Linked DNA regions of Homo sapiens. The protein of the gene in region 7 interacts with the protein of the main gene of each other region in a biochemical or structural test. Each region holds a gene or a part of one and is shown on either strand. Other genes may lie near its edges.

What was found.
Region 1: the proteins of LDB3 (region 7) and CNTNAP2 interact in a test that uses a peptide from one of them, tested with the Homo sapiens proteins (one large-scale study listed by IntAct).
Region 2: the proteins of LDB3 (region 7) and SLC22A12 interact in a test that uses a peptide from one of them, tested with the Homo sapiens proteins (one large-scale study listed by IntAct).
Region 3: the proteins of LDB3 (region 7) and TRMT13 interact in a test that uses a peptide from one of them, tested with the Homo sapiens proteins (one large-scale study listed by IntAct).
Region 4: the proteins of LDB3 (region 7) and KCNB1 interact in a test that uses a peptide from one of them, tested with the Homo sapiens proteins (one large-scale study listed by IntAct).
Region 5: the proteins of LDB3 (region 7) and SHROOM4 interact in a test that uses a peptide from one of them, tested with the Homo sapiens proteins (one large-scale study listed by IntAct).
Region 6: the proteins of LDB3 (region 7) and MYPN interact in a test that uses a peptide from one of them, tested with the Homo sapiens proteins (one large-scale study listed by IntAct).

Annotation. Positions count from the first base shown.
Region 1 is NC_000007.14:148,415,801-148,418,649, reverse strand, and holds part of CNTNAP2 (contactin-associated protein-like 2 precursor), read right to left. Parts: 3' UTR 1-2,849. UniProt on the Homo sapiens protein: Required for gap junction formation. Required, with CNTNAP1, for radial and longitudinal organization of myelinated axons.
Region 2 is NC_000011.10:64,594,220-64,597,719, reverse strand, and holds part of SLC22A12 (solute carrier family 22 member 12), read right to left. Parts: intron 1-3,500. UniProt on the Homo sapiens protein: Electroneutral antiporter that translocates urate across the apical membrane of proximal tubular cells in exchange for monovalent organic or inorganic anions. Involved in renal reabsorption of urate and helps maintaining blood levels of uric acid.
Region 3 is NC_000001.11:100,146,663-100,150,162, forward strand, and holds part of TRMT13 (tRNA:m(4)X modification enzyme TRM13 homolog), read left to right. Parts: coding exon of another isoform or gene 1-10; exon of another isoform or gene 11-1,231; coding exon 1,232-1,664; exon of another isoform or gene 1,665-1,962; coding exon 1,963-2,158; 3' UTR 2,159-2,379; coding exon of another isoform or gene 2,380-2,435; 3' UTR 2,436-2,705; coding exon of another isoform or gene 2,706-2,773; 3' UTR 2,774-3,500. Other genes in the region: LRRC39 (leucine-rich repeat-containing protein 39), read right to left, coding at 2,706-2,773. UniProt on the Homo sapiens protein: tRNA methylase which 2'-O-methylates cytidine(4) in tRNA(Pro) and tRNA(Gly)(GCC), and adenosine(4) in tRNA(His).
Region 4 is NC_000020.11:49,374,669-49,378,168, forward strand, and holds part of KCNB1 (potassium voltage-gated channel subfamily B member 1), read right to left. Parts: intron 325-3,500; coding exon 1-324. UniProt on the Homo sapiens protein: Voltage-gated potassium channel that mediates transmembrane potassium transport in excitable membranes, primarily in the brain, but also in the pancreas and cardiovascular system.
Region 5 is NC_000023.11:50,629,195-50,632,694, reverse strand, and holds part of SHROOM4 (protein Shroom4), read left to right. Parts: intron 1-3,500. UniProt on the Homo sapiens protein: Probable regulator of cytoskeletal architecture that plays an important role in development. May regulate cellular and cytoskeletal architecture by modulating the spatial distribution of myosin II.
Region 6 is NC_000010.11:68,171,988-68,175,487, forward strand, and holds part of MYPN (myopalladin), read left to right. Parts: intron 1-2,078; coding exon 2,079-2,669; intron 2,670-3,335; coding exon 3,336-3,474; intron 3,475-3,500. UniProt on the Homo sapiens protein: Component of the sarcomere that tethers together nebulin (skeletal muscle) and nebulette (cardiac muscle) to alpha-actinin, at the Z lines.
Region 7 is NC_000010.11:86,713,511-86,717,010, forward strand, and holds part of LDB3 (LIM domain-binding protein 3), read left to right. Parts: intron 1-2,816; coding exon 2,817-3,261; intron 3,262-3,500. UniProt on the Homo sapiens protein: May function as an adapter in striated muscle to couple protein kinase C-mediated signaling via its LIM domains to the cytoskeleton.

The DNA.
Region 1 (2,849 bases), on a different chromosome or scaffold from region 7:
AACCTCCTGGACCAGCTTTCTTGAGCTCTAGGGAATATGCTATTTTGAGAGCTTAGGATCTCACTAACCTTGCATTCATTCAAAGTCATCTCCTAGCTTTTTTCAAAACATCGACATTTGCTTCATACACAGAAGATGTTTCCTGCACAACTTTAAATCAGCCACCAACTTTCCCTGAAACTTTAAAACAGTCTATTTTTTGTCGTTGTTGTTGTCTATACATATTATTTAAAGAGGCTACTACCAGCATACTTGTGCTTGCTTGATAATGTATTGGAATGTAAGATGTCAAGATTTTGTGAGATGTGAATGACAAAGCAGGATTAGGCACTGAGAGCTTGGGCGGGAATGTCATGGTTATGGAGGCTGCACTGTGCTAGGCTATCCAAGGAGAGAGTTGGAAGAAAGACTTAATTCTTTTTCTTCACATAAACAGATTATTTACCATTTAAAATGTACTGAATATGGCCTTCATAAACAGATGTAGGGATTTTTGTTACACCCATAATCCCAAGGAGAGGTCAAGATTTCCAGCATTTATTTGGCACTTAGTTACTTAATACTTTATCCACCGTTTGGTTTCCTGTCTGATGGCCACATTGTAACCCTCTTGAAGGAAGACAGTGTCCTATATGTCTTAATTGATGGTGATATGGGAGAACCACTGATCCCTGCAGTCATTCCAGTGTCCTAGGTTTGAAATTTTGGTGAGAGGATTGGATCTCATTTTTCACCTTTTGTGGCAGGAAAAGGAGAGGGAGGAGAAAGGATGAGAACATTTTAGTAGCAGAAGCTGTTTTGGGTGGCTTTAATTCTCTACTCATTTTGGGAAAAAAGGGAAAGTGTTGAGACAATGCATAAAGAACAGAGCTATCATGGGAATTGCAAGAAATAATAAATTTCCATCTGGCATTATTTGGTAAGTGCAGAAGTAATACCTGTAAACCAGGTTTAAAAATCAGAAACACTTCTAAAACATCATGTTTAAAATTTGCTTTCAACAATACATAAAGTAACTCCTAATGGTAATCATCTTGGCTAAATAAAACAGCCTTTGCTTTCAATATGTCATTTGTAAATGTTACATTGTTCTGATATTTAGTGATATTAAGTATTTTTCCATTTTAAATGTATTTTATAGAAGAATGATTAAAACCTTTTAAAATTAAGGGTGTCCATGACAGTGCCTGAGCTCAACCAGCAATGGTAAAAGGGCATCAGGATTCCCTTTTGTTCTGTTACCTTGACTTGTATGGGAATTAACTGGTCCAATGTCTCCTTTGGAATGTGCTCTGTACTGGTGTAATGTGCCACTGGCAACTCTAGGTAATGTTTTCCATTACCCAAGAAACTGATGTGCTCCAATAAGTTAGGCACACTGAGAATCTTGAAAAAGAATGCATAATTCTAACAAACTAGAATTTCCATTTTATTCAGCCGGGCCATCAGAACAATAGCATCTATACCTTCGAAACCTCCTCTTAACCTCTCCCAGGCAAAGAAGGAAAAAGTGATCATATTGAATTCCTCAGAATGGTGGGATCTCAAGACTTTTTAGAAAGTGCTTATTAAGTATAAGAGGCTTGAAATATAATGATGATAAATGGTAGCCTTTCTGGAAATAATTTTTGTGTAATCTGTTTAAAAAGATTTTTTGGATGCATTGTCCCCATTTGTTTACAGGAAGTGTATTACTTTTAAATATAATCAATGAGGTATTTATTTGTTAAATAACTGGGTCAAGATTTCAGATTAAACTAAGAGGTGTGATTAACTACACTTCTCCATCCTCTGGGAAGCAACAGGTACCAGGTTTGTGATGAACCTGAGGTTCAAATGTGTCCGTCTTAGAAGAAAGATCCCTGAATCACAGCAGTGTGATTGGATGGAAAAACACGTGGAGTAGTTGATTTAAAATATGGCAGTGTTTTCCATATCATCCAGAGTAACAGCAATAATAACTTGACTTTATTGTGTTGTGTCCATTTACAGGACACTGTCTATTAGGATTGTGTCACAGGGGTGGAAAAACTACCAGAGATTTAAAGCAAAATAAGAAACGCAACCTAATTTATGCATTCACTAGAAATTATCCATATTTTTGCTATAACTAAACTATAAAAGAAAAAGAGCAAACAAATCATAACATCTGGCTCTAATTCCCCATTGAGGCGCTTATACATATATAAATCCAGTATGTTTCAGATAAAACAGGAAAAAATCTTTTGTAACAGCTGGTCACCATGGTATTGCAGCTGATAGTTACAGCTATTGGTCTAAGACTACATACGTGGAACAATATTAGCTTGTAGAATTCAATGAAAAATCAAACTACCTTCCCTGGTTCTTTAATGCCTCTCTCCAGTTGTGCTGATTGTGTCGTTACACACCAGGTGCCATGCACTCTCTTCCTTCAACTGCTGGTATCAGTCAGGAACCCCAGATGCCAGAGAGCTGGCATAGATTGAGCTCTGCTTAAAAACTGGCAAATAATAGGTTCTCTTTGCCCCTTTCTTTTCCGACTTATAGGACATCAAAGGAAATAGTATATAAACACGAACTAGTTTCTGTAACAGCCCATTAAGGTTGACTAGAAGCAAAAGGAAGAGAATGTTGGGGGCCATCTGTAGGTGCATTAGCTTTTCTCAAGAAAAAAAATACCCACGTTCTAAGGGCTCTTAAAAACGTAGAAAACTTGCCCTGTTACCACGGGTCTTTAGAACACCTCTAAACACACACAAAATAAGACAGATAGTACCTACAAATTTCAACCATTGCTTAAACTCTAAAAGCATTTTTTGTATTATTTTGTTTTGATACAGAAGGGAAAACTCAGCTATAAAGAAATA
Region 2 (3,500 bases), on a different chromosome or scaffold from region 7:
TGGCTCCTGCAGGTCCTTCAGCCAGACGTGTTGTCCCCTATGAGCAGCCAGGGTGGGGCCACCTGCCCTACACCCACCGGGGCCCTGAGCTCCTTAGGGATTTGCAGAACAGAGGGGAGAAGTGGAGATTCCAGGTGCATATTAGAGATAGAGCTGATGAAGCCTGGTGACCCAGTGGACTTGGTGGGGGGATGGTGAGGGAGAGAGAGGCGTCATGGCCACTGTGACTCTGGTGAGTTCAGGGGCTGCTCCCCACGCTGGGGAAGACTTGGGGAGGAGAGGTCTAAGGAGATGTGTGTGGGGATGAGACACCTATAATGGAACCGTCACGTGGGCAGTTGGAGGTGTAAGGCTGGAGGTCAGTGGGGGAGGCAGGACCAAGTGGAGATTTGGGGTCTGCAGTATTTGGAGGGAGCTGGGGCTGCAGGCAGGGGTGAGGCTGCCTGAGGGAGAGAGTGTGGACTGTGCCCGCCACATAGCAGGTACCACAAGTGATGGTGGCCAGATCATTGTGGGTGACCCTGGGAAGGGCAGTTTGGGCGGAGAAGAGGGAGAAAGCTGACTGGAATGTGTTGTAAGTGACTGGGAGGGAGAAAGCGGGGTCCCATTCTCAGATGTCAATACCCCAGGTTGTTCGTCAAGCCCTAAGCACAGTTTGTGAGGCCACGATGTGTGGGATTCCCTATGAGCTCCACGTGGGCAGAGACCACATATCTGCTCATAGCTGGTGTCAGCCAGCGCCTGGCACATGGTAGGTGCTCAGTAGTTATTTGTTGAATGAATGAAGTAATGAATGAATGAATGGGCACTTCTTCAGCCCTGTGGGAGCACGTCTACCAAGGAAAGGGGGGTGCAGCTCTGTGGCCCTGCATCAGCATGAGAACCAGGAGGGGTGCCTTGGAATTTTTATCACTGACCTTTACCTTCCACTCTCTACCCTCTTGGTGTTGGGAGTCAAGCTGCCATCCCAGAAGGCTCTTGTCGGACACGATTGCCTCCTTGTGGAGCCACTGTATGAGATGTAATTTTCTCCTGCTCTGAGGAGTGGCTGCAAATTGTTACTCCACTCCAAGCTGTTGGGTGGGAGAGATTTGTGGACTCAGCCTTCTTCTTAGTGTGGGTGCGGGCACCTGCTCACCACTGGGCCTCTGCTGTGCTCCTTTCTACAGTGGTCCCAATGACCAAACAACTACTAAGTGCAGGGCCTGTGTATGAATGATCCAGGCTCAGCCCTGCCCTCAAATGGCCTCCGTCCATCCATCTATCCATTCATCCATCCAGTTCATCCAATTAATCCACCTATCCATCCATTCAACCATCCATCCAACCATCCATCCATCCATTCCATCCATCCATCCATCCATTCATCCATCCATCCACCCATCCATCCATCCATCCATTCAACCATCCATTCAACCATCCATTCAGCCATCCATCCATCCATCCATCCATCCATCCATCCATCCATCCATTCCATCCATCCATCCATCCATGCATCCATCCATTCAACTATCCATTCGACCATCCATCCATCCATCCATTCCATCTATTCCAACTATCCATCAATCCATCCATCCATCCCATCCATCCATCAATTCCATTCATCCATCCATTCCATCCATCCATCCATTCAACCATCAAACCATCCATCCATCCATCCATCTATCCATTCCATCTATTCCAACCATCCATCCATTCCATCCATCCATCCATCCATCCATCCATTCCATCTATTCCAACCATCCATCCATTCCATCCATCCATCCATCCATCCATCCATCCATCCATCCATCCATCTTTTCCAACCATCTATCCATTCATCTATTCCAACCATCCATCCATCCATTCCATCCATTCAACTATCCATCCATCCATCCATCCATCCATTCAACCGTCCATCCATCCATCTATTCCAATCATCTATCCATCCATCCATTCATCCATTCCAACCATCCATCCATCCATCTATTCCAACCATCCATCCATCCGTCTATTCCAACCATCCATCCATCCATCCATCTATTCCAACCATCCATCCATCCATCTATTACAACCATCCATCCTTTCATTCCACCCATTCAACCATCCATCCATCTATCCATCCATTCAACCATCCATCCATCCATCCCTCCTTCCATTCCATCCATCCATCCATTCCAACCATCCATCCATCCATCCATTCCAACCATCCATCCATCCATTCATTCCAACCATCCATCCATCCATTCCATCCATCCATCCATCTATTCCAAACATCCATCCATTCCATCCATCCATCATCCATCCATCCATCTATTCCAAACATCCATCCATCCATCCGTCCGTCCATCCATCCATCCATCCATCCATCCATCCATCCATCCATCCATTCAACCATCCATTCAACCATCCATCCATCCATCCATCCATCCATCCATCCATCCATCCAACCATCCATTCAACCATCCATCCATCCATCCATCCATTCCATCCATCCATCCATCCATCCATCCATCCATCCATCCATCTATTCCAAACATCCATCCATCCGTCCATCCATCCATCCATCCATCCATCCAACCATCCATTCAACCATCCATTCAACCATCCATCCATCCATCCATCCATCCATCCATCCATCCATCCTTTCCATCTATCCATCTATCCATCCATCCATCCATCCATCCATCCACCCATCCATCCATCCATCTATTCCAACCATCCATCCATCCATCCATCCATCCATCCATCCACCCATCCATCCATCCATCTATTCCAACCATCCATCCATCCATCCATCCAACCATCCATTCAACAATCCATCCATCCATTCCATCCATCCATCCATTCCATCCATCCATCCATTCCAACCATCCATCCATCCATTCCATCTGTCCATCCATCCGTCCGTCCATCCACCCATCCATCCATCCATTCATCCATCCATCCATTTATTCCAACTATCCATTCATCCATCCATCCATCCATCCATCCAACCGTCCGTCCGTCTGTCCGTCCATCCATCCATCCATCCATCCATCCATCCATCCATCCATCCGTCCATCCATCTATTCCAACCATCCATCCATCTATCCATCCATTCAACCATCCATTCAATTCATCTATACAATCCAATCCATCTATCCACCAACTCACCCATCCACTCATCCAATCCACACATCTGTCAACCCATTTATTTATCTGTCTCTATCTATCTACCTACCTACCTACCTACCTACCTACCTACCTACCTATCTATCTATTTCTACTTACCTAACAATTCATCCATTCAACAAATATTTATTTAGCACCTACTATGTGCCAGGTGCTCGGCAAGGGCCACGCCTGATTTGTTTCAGGGCAGTGCTGACATTTCCTAACCTCCCACACATGCCGGCCCTCTGTGGGGACTGTGGACTCCCCTCTGATGAGTGGATCCTGGTCCCTGTCTTCCAGCAGACAGACACAAGCATTGATTCTGTCAGCCCATGAAGCAGACTGCGGCTGTGCGCTGTGTGTGC
Region 3 (3,500 bases), on a different chromosome or scaffold from region 7:
GCCCGGCTAATTTTTGTATTTTTAGTAGAGACGGGATTTCACCGTGTTAGCCAGGAAGGTCTCCATCTCCTGACCTCGTGATCTGCCCACCTCAGCCGGCGTGAGCTACTGCGCCTGGCCTGAAATAACTTAATTCTTTTAATAATTTATCTGGTTATTCACATTTCTGAAAATCACTTACTTAAGTCAAATATGAATAAAACAATGACTAAATGTATTTTGTCAGAAAATAATAGTTTATGAAATAATAGATTAGCTATCACTTTCTGCAAATAATGGGTTTCTAATGTTTGTTGACTTAAATTCATATATTGAATTAAATTTACTAGTGAAATATCAGATCATTTAATAGTCATTTGTGATATCTTAGGGTAATAAAATTTTAAAATATGTATATGTTTTTGATTGAACAGACACAACATGACAATCTAATGATTAAGAAGATATGGGTCCTACATTTTGGGTCTTTCCAGTATTGTCAACAGTGTAGGAGTTTTCGATGGGAAATAGCCATAGTCATCAAAAATCCATTTATTTAGTTTTAAAATATACTAAAATATTTTCATTGTAATGTGGAGTACATCTGCCTCTTAAGTTTGTGTATATTAATAATTGTATCCTCAGTGCTTTGCACATGAAAGGCATTCAGTAAATGTTTGTTAAATAAATGAATAAATACAGTAAGGCTACTCAGTGAGGCCTGCTTTCCAGATTCTGTTCTGACGCCCTCTTTTCAACTCTTCAGTTCATCACTATTTGCTATGAGCCTCTTCAAGACAAGCATCTTGACCTAGCATCAACCTAAACAGATTTGTCTGCCCTTCCTCCCTCCCTTCCTTCCTTCCTTCATTTTTCCTTTCTTAAACTAGAATGTAAGTGTAGGTGAATAAAGTTTTCCCATACAAGTCATTTCCTCAGCTAAGGTAGGAAAAGTGAGAGACAATTCAGGTAGTTGGGTAAAAGTTCTTCAAATTGTAGATCTTAAGCTTCAGATAGCTTTATTGGGAAGTAGGCTTTATGCAGAATAAATCATTAAAGAAATTGAGAAGATAGAAGAGCAAATTTGAATGAAGTTGATAATTCATGATAGTATTATTACAAATATAAAGCTGAGTAGGTTTTTGCTGTTTTTATTGTTGAGTTTTTAAAAACAGTACTGCTTAATAAATGTAAAAAGTATTTATTTTTAAAGATGATGTGGTTTGGGGGGGCCACATAATTGTGTTTGCAGATCTTGCATTACGATGTTTGGTTGAAACCTATGCTGCCAGTTTTGAGGAAAGGAATGAAGAACCTTTAGCCAAACGCATAAAGAATGATAAAACAGAAAAAGAAATTTACACTTTGGCCAAGGAAGGAAATGAAAAAAATGTCCCAGAGAAGTGGAACCCTGTGGCTGGCATTGTTATTGCACTCTGTTGTCACCACAGGTGTGATTGGAGACATTATGTGGGCAAAGAATATTTCAGGGCTCTAGGCCTTGGAGCAGTGGAATTCCATTATTTCCAGCGAATGAGTAGTTGGGCAACTTGTGGGATGCGGAAAACATCTTTGGAAACCTCAAATAGTACCACAAAGAGGCAAGATAATCAGAATGATGATAGTGAAGAGCATGATGATGGAGGATACAGAATCACAGATGATGGCGCTGATTGTTTGCCTGGGTAAGAGACTACTTTTGTAATGCATGATACTAAAGGAGAAATATTATATTGTACTGTACTTTAGATGACTATTATCAACAATTCATGAAAATGTATTTTATAATCTAATTTTAGAATAAGCTAAAATATACACATCTTTTATTGTGGTCATAAATATAATGTGTCTTGGAAGCATGGGACAAAGTACTTAGTACATTATGGGTTAGTTAACAGTCTCTCAATAAATAGTGACAAAAATAATTTTTTATAAACTTTTGCAAAATTTTAACAATGTTTTGTGTGTGTTTATTCAATTTAGGCTTCTTAGTGTTGAAGAAAAGAAGAAAATAGGGCATCTTTGTAAATTGCTGATTGACCAAGGTCGAATCCAGTATTTGCAGCAGAAGGGATTCAGTCCTGCTTTGCAGTACTATACAGACCCTCTGGTGTCTTTGGAAAATGTTTTGTTAACTGCTTTACCAAATCATTCTTCATCACCAGAAACAACTGCTTAATGGAAAAGAAATTTGAGCATCATCTGTCTTCCACCAAAAAAAATTTTTTAATTATATTTTTATATCAAAAAAATATATACTTTAAATAGCAAATAATATGAACTTTAAAAAATGCTGTGGCCTCATTAAACTTTGGTAATAGCTTTTCTTTTTACTTCAGAAATCCAAACATTAGAGAATTCACCAAAGTAATCCTCTTTAGAAGGGCATCTTGAATTATATTATCCATCCGTATTTATGGAGATTGGTAAAGTAGTTGAACCGTTGACTTGGTGATCTGAAACATACATAACATGTCAACACATAATTAGCGTATTTCTGTTTGTATTAATTTTGGAAATTTATCTTCCTTTGATTTTATTTAATATTTTTTATTTCTTAAGTTCAAGAGGTAGTGATTGATTGTAACAAGGGCCAATCTGAGAATTTGACTTATATGTGGACATTTTTCCCTACAGATCTGGAAAGCACAATTGTGATTTTCTCAAATGCAGACAATTCAGAGATATTCACAATTAATAAACACAATTAATTAATGAAGTCACCTTCAAATTTCCAGAGCCATACATGTATATATTGTCAGAATCTGTCCATGACAAACACAAAACTGAAGAGCTGTTTTCAAAGAAAAAAGATTATTTCACTTAATTATTTTGTTGGATAATTGTCTAGTTAGAACTTCCAAAAAGATACTTACAAACATAATTCACAAATTTGAAATAATTTCTGAAGTTGATTAGCTATCTCATATCTTTTATCAGGTCATTTTTTATATATGTAGGCACAAACAATAAGTATGTTCTCTTCTGTTTGGGAAAATAATTTGGAATAAAATAGAAATTAGATAATGAAACCAAAAACCTTCTCAAATTTAGGCCTTATTTAACTCATGACTGGTTTCTATGCACAAGAAAATACTAAACCAAATATATGGTAGGACTGTTATTCTCTTCTGCATCTTATCCCTATTTTGTTTCTGCCTTTATTTGTAAAAATTGTCTTAATTGATGGTACATTTGCCAAGACAAAGGTTCAGAATTACTAATTTTAGATATTATGATATTCTGAAATAACTATTTTTATCCTGTAGTTCTATGATTATATGATTTGTAAATAAGAAGCCTAACCAATTTAAAATTCCTGACTTTAGTCTCATATATCTTGTCAGACTGTCTCGGTTCAAATTCCAAACCTACCATCTTCAGTTGTGCGACCTTGGGCATGCTACCTAATCTCTTTGTGCCTCAATTTCCTCCTTTTAAAATGGGGATGATGATGATAACAATAATACCTACCTCACAAGGTTGTTGTGAGCATCAAATGAGATAACACAAGTAAAATG
Region 4 (3,500 bases), on a different chromosome or scaffold from region 7:
CTGGACCACGCGGCGGACATTCTGGAATTGCAGCACGCTCTTGTTGGATTCGGTGAGGAAAATGGTGACATAGTATGGCAGAATGGCCAACAAGTCAATGGCATTGAGTGGGCCCTTGAAGAACTTCCACTTCTTGGGCGAGGAGAGGAACCTCAGCAGGTACTCCATGGTGAACCATGCGATGCACACGGCCTCCACGTGGGCCAGCTGGGGGTTGTCTGTGGACTGGCCGAACTCATCGAGGCTCTGTAGCTCAGGCAGCGTGTTGAGGGACAGGGCAATGGTGGAGAGGACGATGAACATGATGGAAATTATGGCAAGGATCTGTGAGGAGAAGAGAGTGGGATTTAGTTATCAACCACCCCACAGGATGATCATCATAATATCCTGGATCTACAGGGCACTCCTCAATGTTCAAGAGCATTTTCACATTTCACTAGTCATTTAATGAGCCAAAAAGAGAATTTGTTGTAATCCATTTATTGTCTAGATGTGGAAACCAAGGCCCAGAGAAATGAAATGTTTTAAAGCTATCAGCAAGCCCAGGGTTCAAGCATACTTTTTCAGATAGTAACCATTTTATAGGCCCTGAAACCCTGCATTGTCTGTCACAACGACTCGACTCTGCAGCTGTAGCATAAAACCAACCTTGGATAATACATACATGAATGGGCATAGCTGTGTTTCAATAAAACTTTATTTACAAAAATAGGCAGTGGACTGAATTTGGCCTGTGAACCATGATTTGCTGACTTCTGATCTAGACCAGTGGCTCACACTGGATGGGGAACTACCTTCACAGAGATGATACTAATGATAATAACTATCCTTGATTGAGTGTTCATTGTGTGCTAGGCACTTTCCATGAAATAGCTCATTTCATTCTTATAATAACCCCGTTCAGTGCTATTAGCTCCATTGAACAGATGCGGACACTTGGGTTTCCACAGCTAGTAAGTGGAAGAGCCAGCATTTTAACCCAGGTCTGTGTGACCCAAGAACATGAGCTCTTAAGGCTGTGTTAAAAATCAGATTTGGCTGGGTATGGTGCCTCATGTCTGTAATCCCAGCACTTTGGGAGACCTAGGCAGGAGGATCGTTTGAGGCCAGGAGTTCGAGTCTAGCCTGGGCAACATAGTGAGACTCTGTCTCTATAGAAGAACAAAGGGGAAAAAAATCAGATGAAAGCTAACCTTTTGCTAGAAAAATGCCTAGACACTCAAGATTTTGCAGGTAATTCCTAGGGAGGCACAGACATTCTGGGCCCATGTTAACTCCTGATTGGAACTATGTGCTTTTGGGGGCTAAAGACCTTGGCTTAACTACCTTTGAGTCCCCTGGATCAAGAAGAGAGCTTGGCCCAGAGAAAGGGCTCAATGGATATATGTTGAAATTAATGGAATCTAGGCCAGTAGGCCAGTCTACAGACTATGCAGAAAAGCAAACAGATGTAATCAATTGCTCTGAGGGTCTTTTTTTTTTTTTTCAAAAATACAAATCCAATCACATTACTCCTTTGTTTAATAAATCTCCAGGGCTCCTCATGAAAAAATCCAAACCCCTAAACCTGTCTATTGGGTCCCCTATACCTGTCTTGCTTTTGTAGATTTTCCCTTTCTCTTCCTCTGCCCCTGCTAAGTGGGAAGGGGGGGGCCTGGTCACCATGGTTGTATCATTTGATCCTGCCTGCCAATGATCAGAGCATGAAGTTTGGATAAAAAAATCCAAGTTAAGCCAATCCGTACACTGGGGCTTAGCCAGCCTACCTTTGAGAAATTTGAGTTCAGGAACCCAGGCGGTGAGTGGGTTACGGGAGGGTAAGTCCCTGAATTAAATGTTAAGTAGAATCTAGGCTTGAATCAGCTTCATGATAAGCCCAACCCTCAAGCAACTGTCTCCCAAATGTAGGGGACAGAGATGCCATAAAAACATCAGAGAAAGCTGAGCCTTAGCCTAGACATGGTGGCTTACATTTGTAATCCCAACACTTTGGGAGGCTAAGGTGGGGGGATTGCTTGAGCCCAGGAGTTCGAGACCAGCCTGGGCAACACAGTGAGACCCCGTCTCTACAAAAAATAAAAAAATCTGCTGGGTGTATTGGCACATGTCTATAGTCCCAGCTACTTGGAAGGCTGAGGCGGGAGAATCTCTTGAGCCCAAGGAGGTTGAGGCTGTGGTGAGCCATGACCACACCACTGCACTCCAGCCTGGGTGACAGAGAGAGAAACCCTGTCTTGAAAGAAAACAAAAGAAAAGAAAAAGGAAAAAAAAAAAAGAAACGAAATTAGCCGGGCATAGTGGCGGCACCTGTATTCCCAGCTACTTGGCAGGTGAGGCAGGAGAATGGCTTGAACCCGGCAGGCAGAGGTTGCAGTGAGCCGAGATTGCACGACTGCGCTCCAGCCTGGGCGACAGAGTGAGATTCCATCTCAAAAAACAAACAAACAAACAAACAAACAAACGAAAGAAAAAGACAAAGAAAGCTGAACCTTCAAGAGAAGCCAGAGAATGAAGGGAAGGTGCAGATGAAGGAGGAGTGGGGACCGCAGGAGGGTCATAGCAGGGTGCCGAGGGCAGCAGTTAAGAGCTGAGGCTCTGGTGTCAGCCTGTTTGAGGTTCAAGCCTCAGCTCTGCCATTTCCTTACATTGAGCATGTTATTTAACCTCTCTAAGCCCCAGTTTCCTCATCTAGCAAATGGGCTGATAATAACAGTATCTACCTCAGAGAACTGCTGTGAAGATGAAATGTGTTAGCACAGGCAAAGTGCTAGGACAGCTTCCAGCAGCACACGGTGAGTGTCTAATAGATGCCAGCTGTCATCACAGGGGAAATCTCAGCCCACATCACCCCACCCACTCAGATCACCAGCCTCGGGGTGGCCCGGTCTCGGTCTTTGCCTCCTGTCCTTGTTCTGAGACTGTCTGCTGTATCCTGTAAGTCAACCCAATTGCTACATGGGTGAGTGTGGGAGGTTTCTGGCCCTGCAATGAATCCCCAGTAAGGACACTTGGTTGTCAAGTCCTTCTCATTTTGACTCTGACCTCTCTCTCTGGCCACTCCTGCCATCGGTTCTCAAAATTCACACTCCTCTAGCCGCACACTATCATTGGTCAATTCTGCATGTCCGAGCTTCTTGCTTGCTGTCTGGTGAACTCCAATCCATCTTTTCAAATCCAGCCCATGTGACCCCTTCCCTTTGGAGTTCTCCCTGCTTTCCCCAGGCAGGGTTGACTGCTCCATCCTTGGGTTTCCTCACCATTTTACCATACCTTGGGGATACTTACCACTCATATCCCATCACAGGTGCGTGCGTGTGTGTGTGTGCATGCGTGTGTGTGTGTGCACGTGAGTGAGTGTGCTTATTGCTGCCCAGAATTGGTGAGTACTGGGAGGATGGGGATGGGTTCTGAGGTTTATCTATGTGCCCCCAGCACCTAACCCAGGGTGGGACACCTGACAGGTGCTCACCAAGTATTTGTTGGCCGTTGCTCAAGTTCAT
Region 5 (3,500 bases), on a different chromosome or scaffold from region 7:
CTTATTGCCTCCCATTTTCTACTTCAGAAGTATTTAGAGATGCAAAACTTGCAAATATCCCCAGGCTTTGCTTTCAGAGATCTGACTTGTTGGGTTTTTAAAAAGACAAATCCTTTCCCCTTTCTCCATCCTGTCTCTGTTGGAGACCCAGGTCTAAACTGGCTGCTCTTATATCCCGGTTATGACCTATTACCATAACACAAGCTACCACCATCCCCCAGGCTACTTCTGGGAGGACTCCCTAGGTCCTTGCCTACTCACTGCCAGATTACTTCCCCATGGCATCCCTGATGCCATCTTTTGGCCGGTGCATTCAAACCAGAAGTTAATTCCTGTGTTCAGCTGTTGCATACACAGACACTTTTGAAATGACTTAGTATCTGAATTTGCTCAATATATATCCTTGGTAAAAAGGAACTTCAAGGGTGATAGAAGCCTTACACAAAAGACTATGAACTCTACAATTCCTTTTATATGAAATTCTAAAACAGCTATTCTATGGGGGAACAAATTCAGAACACTGCTCGCCAATGGGAGGTGGCACAGAGATTGACTGGAAAAGGGCAGAGGGAACTTGTGGGGTGGTGACAATGTTCTATATCTTGGTAAGAGTTTGAGTTAAACATATGTACCTGTCAGAACTCAACAAATGTATAGCAAGGCTCCTAGACAGCCAATGCACTTAGTATTTGTGCATTTCACTGGAAGTAAATTTTGCCTAAAAATGTTGTAAACAAATATTAAACTTTATTTAATATGTATGCTGAAGTGTGTTTGAAGTATACTGCTGTATTCAACTTATGTTTTCAGCATACAAATCTTGTACATATTTTGTTATATTTGTCCCTGAGATTTTATGAAAGCGCCGAATCCTAGCCACCCAACCACCAGGGATATTTGTCCCTAAGATTTTATGTTTTTAGATGCTATTATAAAGAGTATTATTTTCTTAATGTCAAGTTGAAATTCTTGATTACTAGTCTATAGAAATATAATTGAATTTTGTGTATTGACATTGTATCCTGCAACCTTGCCAAACTCACTTATTAGTTCTAATAGCTTTTTGGTGGATTATAAAACATTTTCTACATACACAATCATGCCATCTCCAAATAGAATTTAGTGTCTTCCTTTCTCCTGTACATGCCCTTTTCTGGGAGAGAGAAGAGCCTTATTGCACTCTCACCTTCAATACAATGTTTGGAGGAAATGGTAAGAGTGGACATTGTAGCTTTTTTCTTAATCTTTGACTATAAAGTTTGATGTTAGCTGTAGGATTTTTTTGTAGGTGCCCTTTAATTGAGGAAAATCTCTTTTATTCTTAGTTTACTGAGAGTTTTCATCAGAAGTGGATGTTGTATTTTTTTTCAAATGCTTTTTCTGTATCTGTTGAGATGATCATATAGTTTTTCTCTTTTAGTCTACTGATGTGGTGAATGACATTGATTGATTTTTAAAATAAATAGAAGCCTAGCATTGCCAGGATAAATCCCACTTGGTCATGATGTATTATCCTTTTATATGTTACTAGATTTGCTAATATTTTGTTAAGGATTTTGCCCTTATGTTTATCAGGGATTTTAGTCTATAGTTTTATTATAACATCTTTTTCTGTTTTTTGTTTTTTTTGTTTGTTTGTATCAAGGTAATGCTAGCCTTAAAAAATGAGTTGGGATGTATTCCCTTCTCTTTTATTTTCAGGAAGAGTTTGTATAAAATGTCTTCCTTAAATGTTTGCTTGAATTCATCACTGAAGCCATCTGGGCCTGGAGGTTTTTTGGTAGAAAGCTTTTTAACTACAAATTCAATTTCTTTAATAGATTTGGGGACATTTAGGTCATCTATTTCTCCTTGAGTAAGCTTTAGTAGTTTGTGTCTTTCAAGAAATTTGTCCATTTCATTTACATTTTAAAATTTATGGGGATATAGTTGTTTTCAACTTACTTTAAAATGCACCAGGATTTTAAGATGGATTGGTAGATGGATAGAGGAGTAAATGGATATATGATAAGGCAAATATATCAAAATGTTAATTGTAGAATCTAGGTGCTGGGTATATGGGTGATCACTGTGAACTTCTTTCAACATTTTTGTATGTTTGAATATATTCATAATGTTGAAAAAAAGAGGAGAGGAAATATAAAATAATGGTTTTAAGGGCACCGAAGCTGGAACCAGACTGCCTGGTTTTGAATTTCTTCCCCCGAACTTACAATGCCTAAGCTTTCCCATCTAAAAGCATGGGGGTAGTAACAACACCTACTTCATAAGTTGGTTGTGGGGATTAAGTGATGTAACACATTTAAGACTCAGAGCAGTGACTGCCAGATTGTAATCATCTTATAAGTGAGTTATCATCTCTTAAAGGGACATTTTGGCTTAGCTTGAGAGACTTTTGCTGGAAGAAGGACTCACAGATAGACAGTAGACAAAGGGGGCTGAGATTGGGGGTGAGTGGGGCGGGGGAAGTGAGGAGATGACGGCTGCAGCGGTGTCAGCCCAGGACCAGCAGCTCTATAAGAGATGGAGGTACGATTTGCAGGTTGCAGCAATTGGCAGCAGTAATGCATGCGGGTGAGGCTGTGCCTACACCATGCCTCTATTTTTTGTACTCTGAGGGAGGGATACCTTGGGTTCCTAATGCTTGTTAGACCAGCTAAGCAGGTCTGCTTAGATACTAGGCATTCCGACACGTGGATGGCTGCCTAGGAGACACCACATGCCCATTTCTGCCCATCATCTGAACCTTCCACTCCTACTCCACCCCCCTCAAGAAATGGGAAAAACTTGCAGCATGGGTTAAGATGCCATCGCTCTGATGACTCAGGTACTTGTGGTGGTAGCTATCTGAAGTAGGGCTGAGATCCTGCTCCTAATGCCCCTGGACGAGGTTGGTGAACTAATTGTCTCCTGTTCAGTGCTGTGAAGACTGAAATCAGCATGCACTCACGTCCTTCATACCAGCTTGTTTTTCATTCATTGTCAAATTATTTCACTTACCAATTGTATGGGATAAGTTATAATAGGATCTCCCATTTTACAGCTGAGGAAGCTGAGAAAGCCAAGGCTCAGAGAGGTCACACATCTAGCAAGTGGCAGAGCCAGAATTTGAATAACATGACAGTAACTAGCATCTCAGTGTCTACTGGGCACCAGGTACTATTCTAGATGCTTTACATGTATCAAGTCATTGAGTTCTCAAGCAATATTATTATCGTGATTATACTATTATATAGTTGGGGAAACTGAGATAAAGAGAAGTTGAATGGCTTGCCTGAGGCCGCAAGTGAAAGGCAGGTGTGCGATTTGAATCCATGCTATCAAGCTCCAGAGGCCAAGCTCCTGACTGTGCTACACTGCCTCTCCATAAGCTGATTGCAAAGCCCAGGCCCTCTCTAGTGTGGCCGGATGCCCTCTAGCAGTATCACTTCCACTGGGACAGCAAGTTCCCATCACAATCTCCATTTGCAGCAAGCGGTGGGGATAACTGCCTCTTTGAT
Region 6 (3,500 bases), about 19 Mb from region 7:
ATTCAAAATCCTTAATAATTTCTTTTATATTCCTTATAATGCAGAGTCTTTGTGTCCCAAAAGCAACACATATTTCCAAAGAACATAAAACCAGCAAGGCGCTTGCCTGTAATTCTAGCACTTTTGGAGGCCAAGGCGGGCAAATTGCTTGAGCTCAGGAGTTTGAGACCAGCCTGGGCAACATGACGAGACCCCCAACTCTACAAAAAATATAAAAAATTGCTGGGTGTGGAGGCACGCACCTGTGGTCCCAGCTACTTGGGAGGCTAAGGCAGGAGGATCACTTGAACTCAGGAGGTTGGGGCTACAGTGAGCCGTGATTGTGCCACTGTACTCCAGCCTAGGTGACAGAGTAAGACTCTGCCTAAAATAATTAAATAAATAAAAATAGAATAAAGAACATATAATTAGTGGTCCTGAAGCACTGTGATCTCACTTATGGGTCTTCCCGTGGTTACTCATTCAACAGTAGATTCTCCTAAACATCAAAGTTTGACAGCCTTAATGACTTTATGCATATATGATTTTAAGACATTTTTGTTGCACTTTCTTTGTTAAAAAATAACTCTTTTGTGAAGAGAAATTCAATAGACCATTGAATTCAATGGACCATTAAGGCAAATCACGTGATGCCTCTGTGACTCAGGTTCTATAAATGGAGAAACTGCTTCCAGTTTGATCTTTCTCCTTTTAGGAACAATAAAAGTCTAAGGCAAGGTTTATAATCAGGGTGAGCATATAATCATCATTCAAATTAGGACATTTCTGAGAGTGAAAGTGAGTTCTATTAATAATGATGTCAGGGCCGGGCACGGTGGCTCGCGCCTGTAATCCCACCAGTTTGGGAGGCCAAGACGGGCAGATCATTTGAGGTCAGGAGTTCAAGACCAGCCTGGCCAAAATGGTGAAACCCTGTCTCTACTAAAAATACAAAAATTAGCCGGGCATGGTGGCAGACACCTGTGGTCCCAGCTACTTGGGAGGCTGAAGCACAAGAATCACTTGAACCCAGGAGGCAGAGGTTGCAGTGAGCCAAGATCGCACTACTGCACTCCAGCCTGGGCAACAGAGTGAGACTCTGTCTCAAAAAAAAGAAAAACAAAAACAAAAATAATGATGCCAGGAAAAGATGTTAAACCAGGACCTTCCTGAATGTATGGGGACATATGGTCACCTTATCTATAAAGGTTTGTTATCGCGAGAGAATGAGAAACCTCTCTGAGACACATCCGGCTTCTTTGTTAAGGTCGGCTCTAAAACAAGGCAGAGTGGAGAATACAGCATGTTCTCATGGAGAATTCAGCCCTTTTCAGTAACTCACACTGGCATGTAGCTCAGTGCCTTCTGTTCTGAAGCTGGGATACTTTCCTCTGGTCATCAGAACTTTGAGCACTGCCTACAAGAGAAACATTGTCTCTATTTCTCTTTTCCAATTTATAAACTCTTTGTTGCACAACTCCAAGGTCGCAATACAAAGAATACAGTGTGAAGGACGCCCTTGGAAAGAAGGAAAGACAAACTCACCAATTATTGATCAGCTGATTTCTTGCCACTCTGGTTGTGTGTTCTTTATCAACATCAAGTTATTTTATTTATTTATTTATTTATTTATTTATTTATTTATTTATTTATTGAGATGAGTCTCACTCTGTCACTGAAGCTGGAGTGAGGTGGCAAGATCAGGACTCACTGCAATCTCCGCCTCCAGGCTCAAGCCTGGGATCTCAAGTGATCTTCCTGGGATCCTCCTGGGATCACTAAAGCAATCCTCCCACCACAGCCTCCTGAGTAGCTGGGGCTACAGGCGTGCACCACCATGTCTGGCTAATATATATGTATATATAATTTTTTTTTTTTTTGTTAGAGACGGGGTTTCACCATGTTGCCCAGGCTGGTCTCAAACTCCTGGACTCAAGTGATCCACCTGTCTCCGCCTCCCAAAGTGCTGGGATTACAGGCATGAGCCACCATGCCCCGCCTATCATCAAGTTATAAACAGTCTGTCTGAACATTGTTTGAAAGGTGAGGCCAATAATAACACATTTCCTTCTCTCTCTCCACCCTTGTTTTGTGTACAGTGATTCCACTCAGTTACAACAGCTTCATAACCAAGTCTTACTGGAACAACACCAATTGCAAAACCCACCTCCTTCATCTCCTAAGGAGTTTCCTTTCAGCATGACTGTTTTGAACTCCAATGCTCCCCCAGCGGTGACAACATCCAGTAAGCAGGTGAAGGCTCCTTCATCACAGACGTTCAGCTTGGCCCGGCCGAAGTATTTCTTCCCCTCCACGAACACCACCGCAGCAACTGTGGCCCCTTCCAGCTCTCCGGTGTTCACTTTGAGCAGCACTCCTCAAACTATTCAGAGGACAGTGAGCAAAGAAAGCCTCTTAGTGTCTCACCCCTCTGTGCAAACCAAATCTCCAGGAGGGCTTTCCATCCAAAATGAGCCACTCCCACCAGGCCCAACAGAACCAACACCACCACCATTCACATTTTCCATCCCCAGCGGAAACCAGTTTCAGCCCCGCTGTGTGTCCCCAATTCCTGTCTCTCCTACCAGCCGGATTCAGAACCCAGTGGCTTTCCTCAGCTCTGTTCTGCCTTCTCTCCCTGCCATCCCACCCACAAATGCCATGGGGCTGCCTAGAAGTGCACCATCCATGTAAGTGTCATTGAGGTTTCTTGATGTAAGATGCTAGTTAAGAGTCGATGTGCACATTGAATAGCTTGATCTGAAACAGGGCTCTCATTTTGTGGATTCCTAGATAATCTTATTCTCTTAGGCACAGAATGGATGTGGAACACTTCAGGACAAAGGGGATGATTACTTTGAATGATTATTAATAATTAAAATATCAGGCTAGGTGTGGTAACTCATGCCTGTAATCCCAGCACTTTGGGAGGCCGAGGAAGGCAGATCACTTGAGTTCTGGTGTTTGACAGCAGCCTGGGCAACATGGTGAAACCCCCGTCTCTAGGAGAAGCACAAAAAATTAGCTGGGCGTGTTGGTGCATGCCTGTAATCCCAGCTACTCAGGAGGCTGAGGCAGGAGAATCATTGAACCCAAGAGGCGGAGGTTGCAGTGAGCCGAGATCACACCACTGCACTCCAGCCTGGATGACAGAGACTCTGTCTCAAAAAAAAAATTTTTTAAATTAAAGTATCAAAAAGACCTTTACAAATACCGATTCTCTGCACAGGGCTTAATTCCCTAAGTGCCTAATGACCGCTGGTTTCTGGTTGTCATTTCAACCACTCTGATTTCTAGGCCTTTTTACCCTGGCCAGTGCTTTTCATGGGTGTGTCAGGTGTGGATTTATCTTACAGGCCATCCCAGGGATTAGCGAAGAAAAATACAAAGTCTCCTCAACCAGTGAATGATGATAACATTCGTGAAACTAAGAACGCAGTGATTCGAGACTTGGGGAAAAAAATAACTTTCAGTGATGTCAGACCAAACCAGCAGGTAAGATTGTTGGATTTAGAAGGTTT
Region 7 (3,500 bases):
CTGGGATTACAGGCGTGAGCCACCGCGCCCAGCCAATCTTAATCTTTTTTAGCAGAGAATTGCACTTCACAAAGAAAGGAAAGAAAATGTTGCACAGAACCCCCTTATATATAACAGAGGGATGAAGCTGCTCTGAAGTTGTGCTAGATCACCTCTCCCTGCTCTCTGTCCCTGGTGGTGTTCCTGGAATCACTTCTTCCCCCAGCATTTTGATATTCTCTGCAAAGTTGTTAGGGAGGGTGACAATACCTCAAATTTGGGCTGTACACATTTACAAAATCCATTCACTATGTCACCCCAGCAGGTCCCCAGCATGCCCTGTGGGGCAGGCAGGGTGTCAGGCATTCCACCACCACTGAATAGACCTCAGTCTCAGGTTATCTGACTTCAGGATGTTCCATTTCCCTTCCCTCCTCTCCCCCAACCCTAGGCGCTACCAGTCTAACTGGGCTGGGCTTCCCTAGGTGAGCAGCAGGCCATGAGACAGGCTGACAGTACATCTGACCCTGACACCCAGGTTGCCCCCATCCTTGCCATCCTCACTCACATTTAGTGACACACTATGCCAGGTACTAGGCTACGCTCTTTATATTTCTTACCTTCCCTTAATCCTCATAATAACCTTGTGAGATACTAAGAATCAGTATTGCCAGTTTTAGATGAAGAAATTGAGGCCCAGAGAGGTTAAGGAACTTGCCCAAGGACACAAAACCAGGAGGTAGTAGAGCTGGATCCTGCAGCCAGGGCTCTTGGCTATGCTATCAAGACTCCACAGCAGGGGGTCTCCTTCATGTTGAAAATGACTCCTCCCTGACATGTTGCACTGAGATTTTCTAGAAATTGGACTCATATTCTTTACAGAGGCAGCTTGGGATGATAGAATGAATGGATTTGGAGATGTATTCCCACTTACTAGCTCTGTCTGAGCCTCAGTGACCTCAAGTGTAAAGAGGGAATAATGTGAAGACCGATTCAGATGACAGATGCTATGTGCCTCGTTACCCCTAAAGGGGAGGAAGATTCCTTATGGAGAAGGTATTATCTTTTTTTTTTTTTTTTTTTTGAGATGGAGTCTTGCTCTGTTGCCCAGGCTGGAGTGCAGTGGTACGATCTCGGGTCACTGCAAGCTCCGCCTCCTGGGTTCACGCCATTCTCCTGCCTCAGCCTCCTGAGTAGCTGGGACTACAGGCACCCGCCACCACACCCAGCTAATTTTTTGTATTTTTTTAGTAGAGATGGGGTTTCACCACATTAGCCAGGATGGTCTCGATCTCCTGACCTCATGATCTGCCCACCTCAGCCTCCCAAAGTGCTGGGATTACAGGCGTGAGCCACCATGCCCAACCGGTATTATCTTTTGAAGGCCTCACTGGCAGGATGGCTCCAGGGCAGGGCTGTGGAGGGTTTTATCTCTTCTTCCTTCAACAACATGGATGGATCCTATCTACCTGGTCCCTACTCACCCCCAGCACAGGGATTTCCAGCTCACCCAGCTCTGAAGGGTGGGTCACCTGGGAGTGGAAGGTGCAGAGTGGGAGCCACAGGCTGCCCCAGGCGGTCCAGGGGAACCAGGTGGGAAAGAGAGACTGGAGATGGGGCCAGGGTCTTAGGCCCTAAGGAAAACCTTCCTCTCCAGGTTGAGGCTGGAGTATGGGGTGGGGGGCAGAGGCGGGGTGTGGGTGCAGGGACTGCCTCAATGCAGTCCATCCTGCCCATACTGAGCTCAGGAATGGGGAGGGAGGCTGTGCTGACATGCTTCCTAGGGTTGGGGGAATGAGGCCTCTTTGCTGAGGAGCAGACTGAAATGTGGTGAGGCTTCTGGAACCTCACTCACTGGAAGAGGAAGCCAGCTGGACCTTGCCTGCAGGGTGCAGCTGGGTCTGCCCTGGCTAGGTGTTGAGGGCCCAGGCGGGAGAGGGCTGTGGGTAAGCAGTGGCAATGCTTTTTCTGTGCTGTGAGCCCAAAACGTTTTTCTGCTCTCAGGGAGCTGGAGGAGGGGGTGATAGAAGTGAGGTGGTGCATTCTCTTCCCTGTGCTCTGACTGCCTGGGCAATCTTTAGACAGTCACTCAGACACACTCTCAGCTTCCACCAAAGCGATGTGGGAGTACAGGGGTCCCCCAAGGCAGCCACGGGCCAAGTGAGCAGCTACTTCTAGGCTGTGTCACCCTAGAGTCTCTGCCCAGCACCCTCTGAATGACTCCTTCAAGATCCCCCACCCTAATCAAACCAAGACGGAATTGCCCCCCAATACAAATCAAGCCAAGCTGTTTTTCAAGAAAGTAATTGTAGCTAAACCTGAAACCTGAACCTGAAAACCCAGCTACCAGGTCACCTGTTTTGTCCTGAGGGCTGACCTAGGTCCAGGTTCAGCAAACTTATGCCAAGGGAGGTATTTCAGATGTCAAATCACTGGTCAGAGTGCAACTGAAAGCATCTTGCAGTCAAAGGCGAGGTGACCCACTCCCACCTCTCCCCGCCCAGGTACCCCCACCCCCACTCTGCGTCTTATGCAGGCCTTGGGCAGTCAAGGCCTGGCGGAGCCCCACCCTGCACAGCTGCAAATATTTATAGCCATGTCCCTTTTCCAGCCCTGTCGAGGGTTCTGCTGTGCTTGCTCCCTAGCTCTGTGAACACCCTGCTGAGAATTCAAATCTGGGCCATCAAGAAGTTCAGGAACAAGTCTCCCAAAAAAACTGAAATTGTACTGCTCTAATGTTAAAGTCACCTTTTGCATTTCTCTGGCTAGGAGTGAGGGGAACTGGGAAGAATGAATTCCTGACACACCTTTCTTTGGGTTTTTTTTGGCTTTTGCAGTGCCTGCATCTACCTACAGCCCGTCCCCAGGGGCCAATTACAGTCCCACTCCCTACACCCCCTCCCCTGCCCCTGCCTACACCCCCTCCCCTGCCCCTGCCTACACCCCCTCACCTGTCCCCACCTACACTCCATCCCCAGCACCAGCCTATACCCCCTCACCTGCCCCCAACTATAACCCTGCACCCTCGGTGGCCTACAGCGGGGGCCCTGCGGAGCCTGCCAGCCGTCCACCCTGGGTGACAGATGATAGCTTCTCCCAGAAGTTTGCCCCGGGCAAGAGCACCACCTCCATCAGCAAGCAGACCCTGCCCCGGGGAGGCCCAGCCTACACCCCAGCGGGTCCTCAGGTGCCACCACTTGCCAGGGGGACCGTCCAGAGGGCTGAGCGATTCCCAGCCAGCAGCCGGACTCCACTCTGCGGTCACTGCAACAATGTCATCCGGTATGGTCCAGCTGTGCCCCTGCACTGGGGCACTGGAAGGGCGTGTGTGTGGGGTGCTTGCCCACAGTCTGAGCCCTGGTTGGGAGAGATGGGGGTAGGAGGCAGGTGTAGGGAGAAAGCCTCGGGTCCTTCTGGCTTGCCATCTGGTCTTACCTCTCTGAGCCTTAGCTGCCATACCTGTGTGACACCCACTCTCCCAGGGAGCTGGGAGGAATGGCATGAGGTATGTGGGTGAAGCT